Linked DNA regions of Homo sapiens: region 2 is linked to region 1. Evidence: fine-mapped QTL for protein levels in blood plasma. A gene starts in region 1. The other region holds a variant in brackets. All regions are shown on one strand. Distances are from middle to middle.

Region 1 (4,000 bases):
TAAGCCACTAGCCCAAGGTCGTGAGTGGAGTAAGAACTCAAACCCGGGTCGCTGGCTTCAGAGACGGGGCTCCTCCTGCTTGGCCGGGGGCCCTCCCCAGAGAAATGTGCTATTTCATCTGAAAAAGGTTATACCCCAAACAGGCTGCTGTGAGGATAACAGCAACATGGCATTATTACTTTGCTGTGAATTCTGAAATGCTTTTGTGTTGATATATTTAGACCCTTCTGTGGAAGATGAGACTGAAAAACATTGCTGATTAGATTCTGTTTTGATTTGAGAAGGGAAAAGCACCTGCCCCAGAAATCTAATTTCCTGCTGGCTTCAGCCTCTTAAGAAGAGTCCACTGGGAAGAGGTTTGAGACAGACAGGGTTTGACGTGTCGCTCTCGGATTTTTAGCTCGGTGACCGAAGGCCAGTGGTTGCCCCTCTCAGAGCCTCAGTTTCCACATCTGTAAGTGGGGACAGTAATCCCTACAGGTCTCAGGGGTGTTCCTGAAGGTTAAGCAGGGGTACCACACATCCCAGTGGGTAGAGCCCTTGGGACTGTGAGTTTGGGTCCCCTGGGCCTATGTGACCCTGGAGGAGGAACTCCATCAATGGTGTCTCCCTGCGCTGGGAGGATTATTCCCGCTTCTAAGAGGCGTATCTGAGTGGAGTGGGCCTGGCAACTAAGCGTCCATTCATCCTAAGCTCGCCTTTGGGAAGAGTTGTGTGCCAGTTCACCAAGTGGCCCCAAGATTCTCCCAAATACTTCCCTTGGTCTACCTGGCAGAAGTCCTCCGAGAATTGGGGTGCCCCAGCTCCTCTTTCTACACTGGCTTCTCAAGAGCCAGATCACTGGGTCTCCTAGGGTGTCCGCAGCGTTTCCAGCACCTTCCCACGCACCTGGCTGGCTCCAAACCCCTCCAGCACTGAGGTCTTGGCCACAACTGTCCCAGTGCAGCCCCCCAGGGACGGGAGGGCAGAAAGCAGCCTTGCTCAATGTCCTGTTACAAGGCAGGGACGGGGGTGGGGCCCTCCCCAGGAGTGGGCAGATGGGATGCCCACGGGCGGAGACCCTGGGGAGGGGAGGAATTGGACTTCCTTAGTAGGCTGGAAAAGGGGCAGGGAGAGGGGGCAGAGAACAGGTTTCTGGCCCCAGGAAACTCAGGTATTGGGAGGGCAAGAGGAAGAGGGTGGTACTGCCTCCCGGATAAGGTGACCAACTTTCCCAGTTTGCCCCGGACTGGGGGAGTGGGTTCCAGGGATGCAGGGCTTTCCACGCTAAAACAGAAACAGCCGTAGACTCTGCCGGTAAAGGGCCTGGGCAAGTCCCGGGACATGCACAAACTGTGCCTTCTGTGGAAAGGGAACTGGACCAGTTCGGGTCTCGGGGGTGCTTTCAACTCTGCCACCTGGGCTGTGGCCCCAGAAGCAGGTGGCCGGGAGGCTCTAGGGATGGCGGGGGCAGGTGAGGGGAGACTGGTGGGCTCCGGAAGGCTTCTCAGCGCGGAGCTCCAGCTGCGGGGAGGCGCGGCCCCTCCCGGATGCCGGGACGAGGGAGGGGAAGGGAGGGGAAGAGGCGGGGTAGGTAGGGGCGGGGGGCGCGGCAGCGGCAGCGCGCATGCCCGGGCCCGGGGCGCCTGGACCTCGGGAGGGAGCGGAGGGCGCCTACCTGCAGGCCGTTGGGGTATGCGTCGCCCTCGGAGAGCGAGTCCACCAGGTCCTCCTCGTCCAGCGTGGCCCGCTTGTACGTCGACATCTGCAAGGCCAAATGCAGCACGGACTCCCTCAGCGCCTCCATGGCTCTCGCGCCCGAATGGGGAAGCGGCCCCGACCCTGGCGCCGCCGCCGCCGCGCCCCGCCCCGGCCTGGACACCCGAGACCGAGACCGGCCCACGGAGCGGCCCGCGCGGGGAGGGGTCCCGCCCGCCTCCCGCCCCCGCCCTCCAGGCCGCGCCCGCCTCACCCCCAGCGCCGACAGCAGGGCGGACACCGGGGGCGGCCACACGCCCCGCATGCTGTGCCCCAGACGCCTGGTCCCGCTGCCCGGGTGGCCGGGATGGGATGGGCCGGGCCAGGCGTTGCACCACCTTCGCGGGCGGGGCCTGATCGGTTCGCCGGCGCCCGGTTCCCAACCTCCGGCCTCCCGGGGAGACCCCAAGACCCGAGAGGCCCGGGGGAGATGGGGACCCCTCCCTTCCCCGGAGGTCGGGAGTGGGGGCCCCCAAACTGAAGCCCCTAGCAGGCAGGAAAGGCCCTCACAGTGACCCCTCCTTCGAGAAAATCTTAAGTCCCCCTTCAACAACCGGGTCCCCAGTGGCAGATAACAAAAGTATCAGGAAGGTGCCCTCGATGTGGCCCAGAGCAATCAAGACAGGTTCCCCCCGGCATCAGCCCTTAGGTGTGTCTAGGGGGTTAATGCTAGAAAGACCAGACAAAAAAGGTGGGGTAAAAAGGTAGGTGTCCCCTTTCAGTTCCCCTTTCTAGCTCAGAGGCCTTTAAGCCAGAGTTCGTGAATGAGTTTCAGAAAATTTCAGAGAACTCCCTGACACGGGATGAAAGGAGCTGTGTGTGTGCATTTGGATGGCTGCAGGGTGGTCCGGTGGTCACCCCCGTGCTCAAAGGTGTCGCCCTCCCTGCAACACAAGAGAACCATTGCTCCAGGGGGAGTCAGAAGCCAGGAAGGGGACCCTTCTTTCCCATCTTCCCCCTCAAGACTCGGAGCCTCAGCCAGGTGCCCCCCTCCCCAGCCCCTGAGCCCTCTCCTATAACCCTAGGCAGGGAAAGGGGGCTCTCTCGGATATGAGGTGTTCAGTTAGGGACTCAGGCCCAGCACTGTCCCAACCAAGAACCCCAGAGAGGTCTAACCCAGCAGATTTCCAAAGGACTCTCCGCTTCTAGCAAGGCGGGAATCCCTGCATTTATGCGTACTTTTCAGCTTTGCAAAGTGCATTTCTGCTCATTCCAAATTTGATTCTCACAGTCACACATATGTGTGAATAAACAGGTTTAGAGGGGTGAGGGGCCTGACGTCACAGGGACAGTGAGGGCAATGGCTCCAGATGGTCTCCTGGCTTCCACTCCTGCCCTCTGACAGCCCCCTCAGCAGCCAGGATGAGCCTTTAAAATGAAATCTGGCTGAGGCCAGGCACCATGGCTCGCTCGCGCCTGTAATCCCAACACTTTGGGAGGCCAAGTTGGGTAGATCACTTGAGGTCAGGAGTTCAAGACCAGCCTGGCCAACATGATGAAACCCCATCTCTACTAAAAATACAAAAAATCAGCTGGGCCTGGTGGCATGCATCTGTAATCCTAGCTACTCAGGAGGCTGAGGCAGAAGAATCGCTTGAACCCAGGAGGTCGAGGTTGCAGTGAGCTGAGATTGTGCCACTGTACTCTAGCCTGGGTGACAGAGTGAGACTCCATCTCAAACAAACAAACCACAGAAATCTGGCTGGGTTCAGTGGTTCACACCTGTAATCCCAGCACTTTGGGAGGCTGAGGCAGGAGATCACTTGAGTCTAATTCTAGGCCAGCCTGGGCAACACGGACCCCATCTCTACAAAAAGAAAATATATATATATATATTTATATATTATATATTTTTAATTAGCAGGACGTGGTGGTATGCGCCTGTAGTCCCAGCTACTTGGGAGGCTTAGGTGGGAGAATCGCTTGAAGCCAGGAGGTGGCGGCTACAGTGAGCTGTGATTGCACCACTGCACTCCAGCGTGGACGACACAACAAGATCTTGTCTGAGTAAATAAATAAAATAAAAAAAAATTCTGATATTACCACTCCCTTGCTTAAAAACCCTCCACTGTCCTGGAATGAAATCCAAACCCTTCACCAGGCCCCATGGCCCCTGCCCACTCTGGGCCCTCATCTTGTGCTGCCAGCGCCCCCTCCCCCACCAACCTCCTCACACAACTCCTCAGTTTCTACAAGTTTCTTCTTCCCCCAAGACCTTTGTAGCTGCTGTTGTCTCTATCTGGAACATTTTTTCCTCCTCTCT
Region 2 (4,000 bases), 71 kb before region 1:
GTCGGGGGAGGGGAGGCAGAGGGGACACCATGGCTGGGAGAAGCCCGCCTCTATGTGGCAAGGGGACTGCGGCTGGCTTCTGCTTCAGCTACTTCTCGGGTTCCTGTCTCCTCTGCAGAGCTACCAGGACTGCTGCGTGCTGGGACCAGGACCTCCATCTGGAATCCACTCTCGATACCCTGCACCAGCTTGGAGGCAGATCCCAAGGTGGCAGGGGTGTCCCTGTGCCGTCTGCTTCCTCTCGGGCAGGAGGATTCCAGCTTCCCGGGTGAGGGGAGAGCACTGTCCAGGCAGGGCTGGGCCAGGAGGCCTGGGCTGCTGAGGCGGGAAAGCGGTGGCTGTGGAGGGCACGTGCTGCCCCCACCTCCGTCTCGGGGCCTGGCTTCCCCACTGGATGGCAGAGGCCGCTCCAGGTGCTTCCACTTGGTGGCGCCCATGAGTCTGCTACTGGAGAAGCTGTGGTCTCAGGGAGGAGACAGACACCACAGGCCAGACTGGGTGGAGGAATCTTCCCCTCACAATGTCCCCTGGCTAAAAGCATCCATCTAGCTGCAAGTACTATCTTGATTCAACCCAGGGGCCGACAATGGACTGCAGCCCAGGGTAAGTCCAGCAGTTTTGCAGTCTTCCGATGCCCTGTGCCATGGACCTGCCGGCCAGAGCTCCTGGGCTCCCGTGGAGGTTAGCCCTGCAGGCACCGGGGAAATGGGGCTATGGCCTGTGCTTCAGTCAGGACACCTGGGGGCTGCACTGCGGAGGCCAAGGGCATCTAGGAGCAGGGGCTGTCTCCTTGGGGTGGAGACTGGCGGCTGCAGCCTCAGATAAGGCACTAGAGGACTGGACTGGTCCTGGGAGCCAGGCCCAGCCATGTGGTGGATGACGGTGCTCAGAGAGAGGATTTGGGTCCTGCGGGAGGTGACAGCTGTTTCTCTTTTCTTTTTTTTGGGACGGAGTCTCCCTCTGTCACCCAGGCTGGAGTGCAGTGGCGCAATCTCAGCTCACTGCAACCTCTGCCTCCTGAGCTCAAGAGATTCTCTTGCCTCAGCCTCCCGAGTAACTGGGATTACAGGTGCCCACCACCACTCCCGGCTAATTTTTGTAATTTTTTTTAGTAGAGATGGGGTTTCACCACGTTGGCCAGGCTGGTCTCAAACTCCTGACCTCAGGTGATCCGCCCACCTCAACCTCCCAAAGTGCTGGGATTACAGGAGTGAGCCACCGGGCCCAGCCTGTTTTCTCTTTTCTCCTTTCCCTGGGGAAGAGGGTTGGCCGGACAGACCCTGGTGTGGCTGGGATGGGGGACTGCTGCAGAGAGGTAACGGGCCCCTGAGATAGACATGGGACAGCCCGAAAAGGTGGGACTGAGAGGGGACACTTGTGGCCAGCAGTGTATCTCTGACACAGTCTCACCCCGCAGGGCTCCTGCAGTCTCGATTCAGGGTGCTTGGTGTTCCCAGATGGTGTTTGAGGGTCCTGACCCGACCTCATTCTGCTATAGCCATCAGTCCCCTGCTGTGGCTTTGGGGATCAGAACTTCCCAGCTAGGGCTCCCACTGTTGGACTCAGGGGACGGAGGCAGGCTAGCTGAAGGGGCAGTGCCCATGAGCTGGGCCCCCCGCAGAGCAGGCTCCTCTCTCTGCCTGGCCTCCACACCTCTACTGGTCTCCACGCCCTTGCATGAGGTGACAGGAGCTGAAATCACACATCCCAGGGGCTGAGGCAGCTGTCTGATTTGGAGACTTGCTCTGTGGCCCAGGGATCCGTGCCTCAGCCCAGCCTCACAGGGAGTGGGGAAGAGAGGGAGTAAATCAGTGGGGCTTCCCTTGTCCACAGGTTATTTAGAAAAACAGAACATAATAAATATACCAATTCTTTCCTT[A/T]AAAAAAAAAGTGTTTAAATGTGTTTTTCCCTGAAGATTTCCAGTGTATTCCACAGTGTTTAAAAAATAGTTTCCCCAAAAATATATCTTGAAAGCATTTGACACAGTGGTATTTGTGGCGTATCTGGCGCTTGTCAGTGTGGGGCCCAGGCCTGATGAGCCACCAGCCCAGCACCCGAATGCCTGCTGAAGGTGGCGCACACGTGTGCCTGGGATGTCCGGCTCTTCACAGGGGATCAGACTGCGGGTCACGTTGAGAGCCAACACCATGGGCTCGGTTCCGGCTGAAAACCCGCCAGTGTGAGGAAGCAGGGCCCCGGGTGGCCAAGCGGGCTGAGCAATGCCCTGGAGGCTGGATGGGGGTCTCGTCCTCAGCCCCTTCCCCTCCTCCGTCTTGGCTCTCTCCGCTTCGTCCTTACCAGACTTCGCACTTGTGAGGCGGGTTCATGGGTGAGCCAGGTGGGCAGCGGAAGTGTTCTGAGAACTCCTTGGAATTGGAGAGGGAGCCGATGACCCGGAAGCGAGAGGGGCTGTGGGGATCGGTGATGAGGCCTTCGTGGGAGCTCTCAGGTGTGCGGACGGAGCACCAGACCTTTGAAGGGGCAACAGGGAGAGGCCAGGGTCACTGTGGGGCCCTCGGGCTGCCAGACTGCCCCCATTATAACAGCAGGGGAGGCCAGGTGCGGTGGCTCACACCTGTAATCCCAGCACTTTGGGAGCCAAGGTGGAAGGGCTGCTTGAGCCCAGGAGTTCATGACCAGCTTGGGCAACATGGCAAGACCCCATCTCTACAAAAAATTAAAAAAAAAATTAACCAGGGATGGTGGTGTACACCTATGGTCCCAGCTCCTGGGGAGGCTGAGGTGGGAGGATCACTGGAGCTGGAGAAGTCAAGGCTGCAGTGAGCTGTGATTGTGCCACTGCATTCCAGCCTCGGTGATAGAGTGAGATCCTGTCTCAAAAAGCAAAACAAGGTTGGGTGTGGTGGCTCATACCTGTAATCCCAGCACTTTAAGAGGCCAAGGTGGCGGTGGATCACTTGAGGCCAGGAGTTCGAGACCGGCCTGACAAACATGGTGAAACCCTGTCTCTACTAAAAATACAAAAATTAGATGGGCGTGGTGGTGCGTGCCTATATCCCAGCTACATGAGAGGATGAGGCAGGAGAATCACTTGAACCCGGGAGGTTGAGGTTGCAGTGAGCCAAGATCACACCATTGCACTCCAGGCCGGGTGACTGAGGGAGACTCCGGCTCCAAAAAAACAAAACCCAGAAAATACAACACCAGGGAGATAAGCCCCCCACCTGATCCTGAGATCCCGGGGAGTCAGGAGGGTCCCCTGAGCGGGTCAGGAAGAGACAGTGGGCTGGTGTAGGGCTGGTGTGCCACCCCCCATGCCAGCAGCCTCTAACGCAGTTGTCTCCAAACTGTTCTCCTTCAGCCAGCGCAGCATCTCTGAGGCAACTGCATTCGATTCCATCTGAACAAAGGACTGTGTCCAAACACCAGTTGGAAAAGCTTGGATTTAGTCCAGATCTCTCATTTCCTGGGCAGAACAAATTGTCTAATGGCCTGGTAGCTCTGAGTGCCAGCAGAAGGCTACCAGATGAATGCCGACTGAAGGGATGATCTGGGATGATCACAGCAAGACAGAATCTTGCTATGTTGCCCGGGCTGGAGTGCAGTGGCGTGATCTTGGTTCACTGCAACCTCTGCCTCCCAGGTTCAAGTGATTCTCATGCCTCAGCCTCCCAAGAAGCTGGGACTACAGGCAGCCACCACCATGCCTGACTTTTTTTTTGTATTTTTTCATAGAGACAGGGTTTCACTATGTGGACTAGGCTGGTCTCAAACTCCTGACCTCAGGTGATCCACTTGCCTCGGCCGCCCAAAGTGCTGGGATTATAGGCGTGGGCTGCTGTGCCTGGCTGGTCATCTTAAGTTTAAGAAACCTCTAGAACCCTAGAACCAGAAGGGCCCTGGGTGATCACCTCGTCTTCTCATTCACCAGATCCAGGAATCCCTTCACTGGTACTTTGGGCCCTTCCGTGCATCTCTCTAATGACAGGGCACATGTGCTGTGCACAGTCCAGTGACTTGGGAAGTTCTCAATCTGTGG

Alleles and levels. Positions count from the first base shown, and alleles are read on the strand shown. Strength reflects both the effect of a copy and how common the allele is.
With allele T in place of A in region 2, the plasma level of the protein whose gene starts at base 2,051 in region 1 is lower (moderate association).

The links. A credible set is the group of variants that fine-mapping cannot tell apart. PIP is the chance, under the fine-mapping model, that this variant and not a neighbour inherited with it causes the effect. Protein levels are from antibody-based Olink assays in UK Biobank. Linkage for the fine-mapping came from a reference panel and not from the study's own genotypes, which makes the PIPs less certain.
Region 2: its variant is the best candidate, but not a certain one, in a credible set for the plasma level of the ECE1 protein (UK Biobank, PIP 0.77).

What each region holds. Positions count from the first base shown.
Region 1 is chr1:21,288,413-21,292,412 of GRCh38, forward strand. ECE1 (endothelin converting enzyme 1) reads right to left here and starts at 2,051. Exons shown (of 19, transcript NM_001397.3): 1 at 1,952-2,051; 2 at 1,658-1,744. The coding sequence starts at 2,002. RefSeq lists an enhancer at 495-1,056 and silencers at 1,733-1,902, 1,953-2,132.
Region 2 is chr1:21,217,661-21,221,660 of GRCh38, forward strand. ECE1 (endothelin converting enzyme 1) reads right to left here. Exons shown (of 19, transcript NM_001397.3): 19 at 1-2,471. The coding sequence ends at 2,295. Among named protein-coding and RNA genes, the nearest start is that of EIF4G3, 43 kb to the left of the region's middle. RefSeq lists a silencer at 378-583. The variant A/T (reference allele first, on the strand shown) is at 1,880.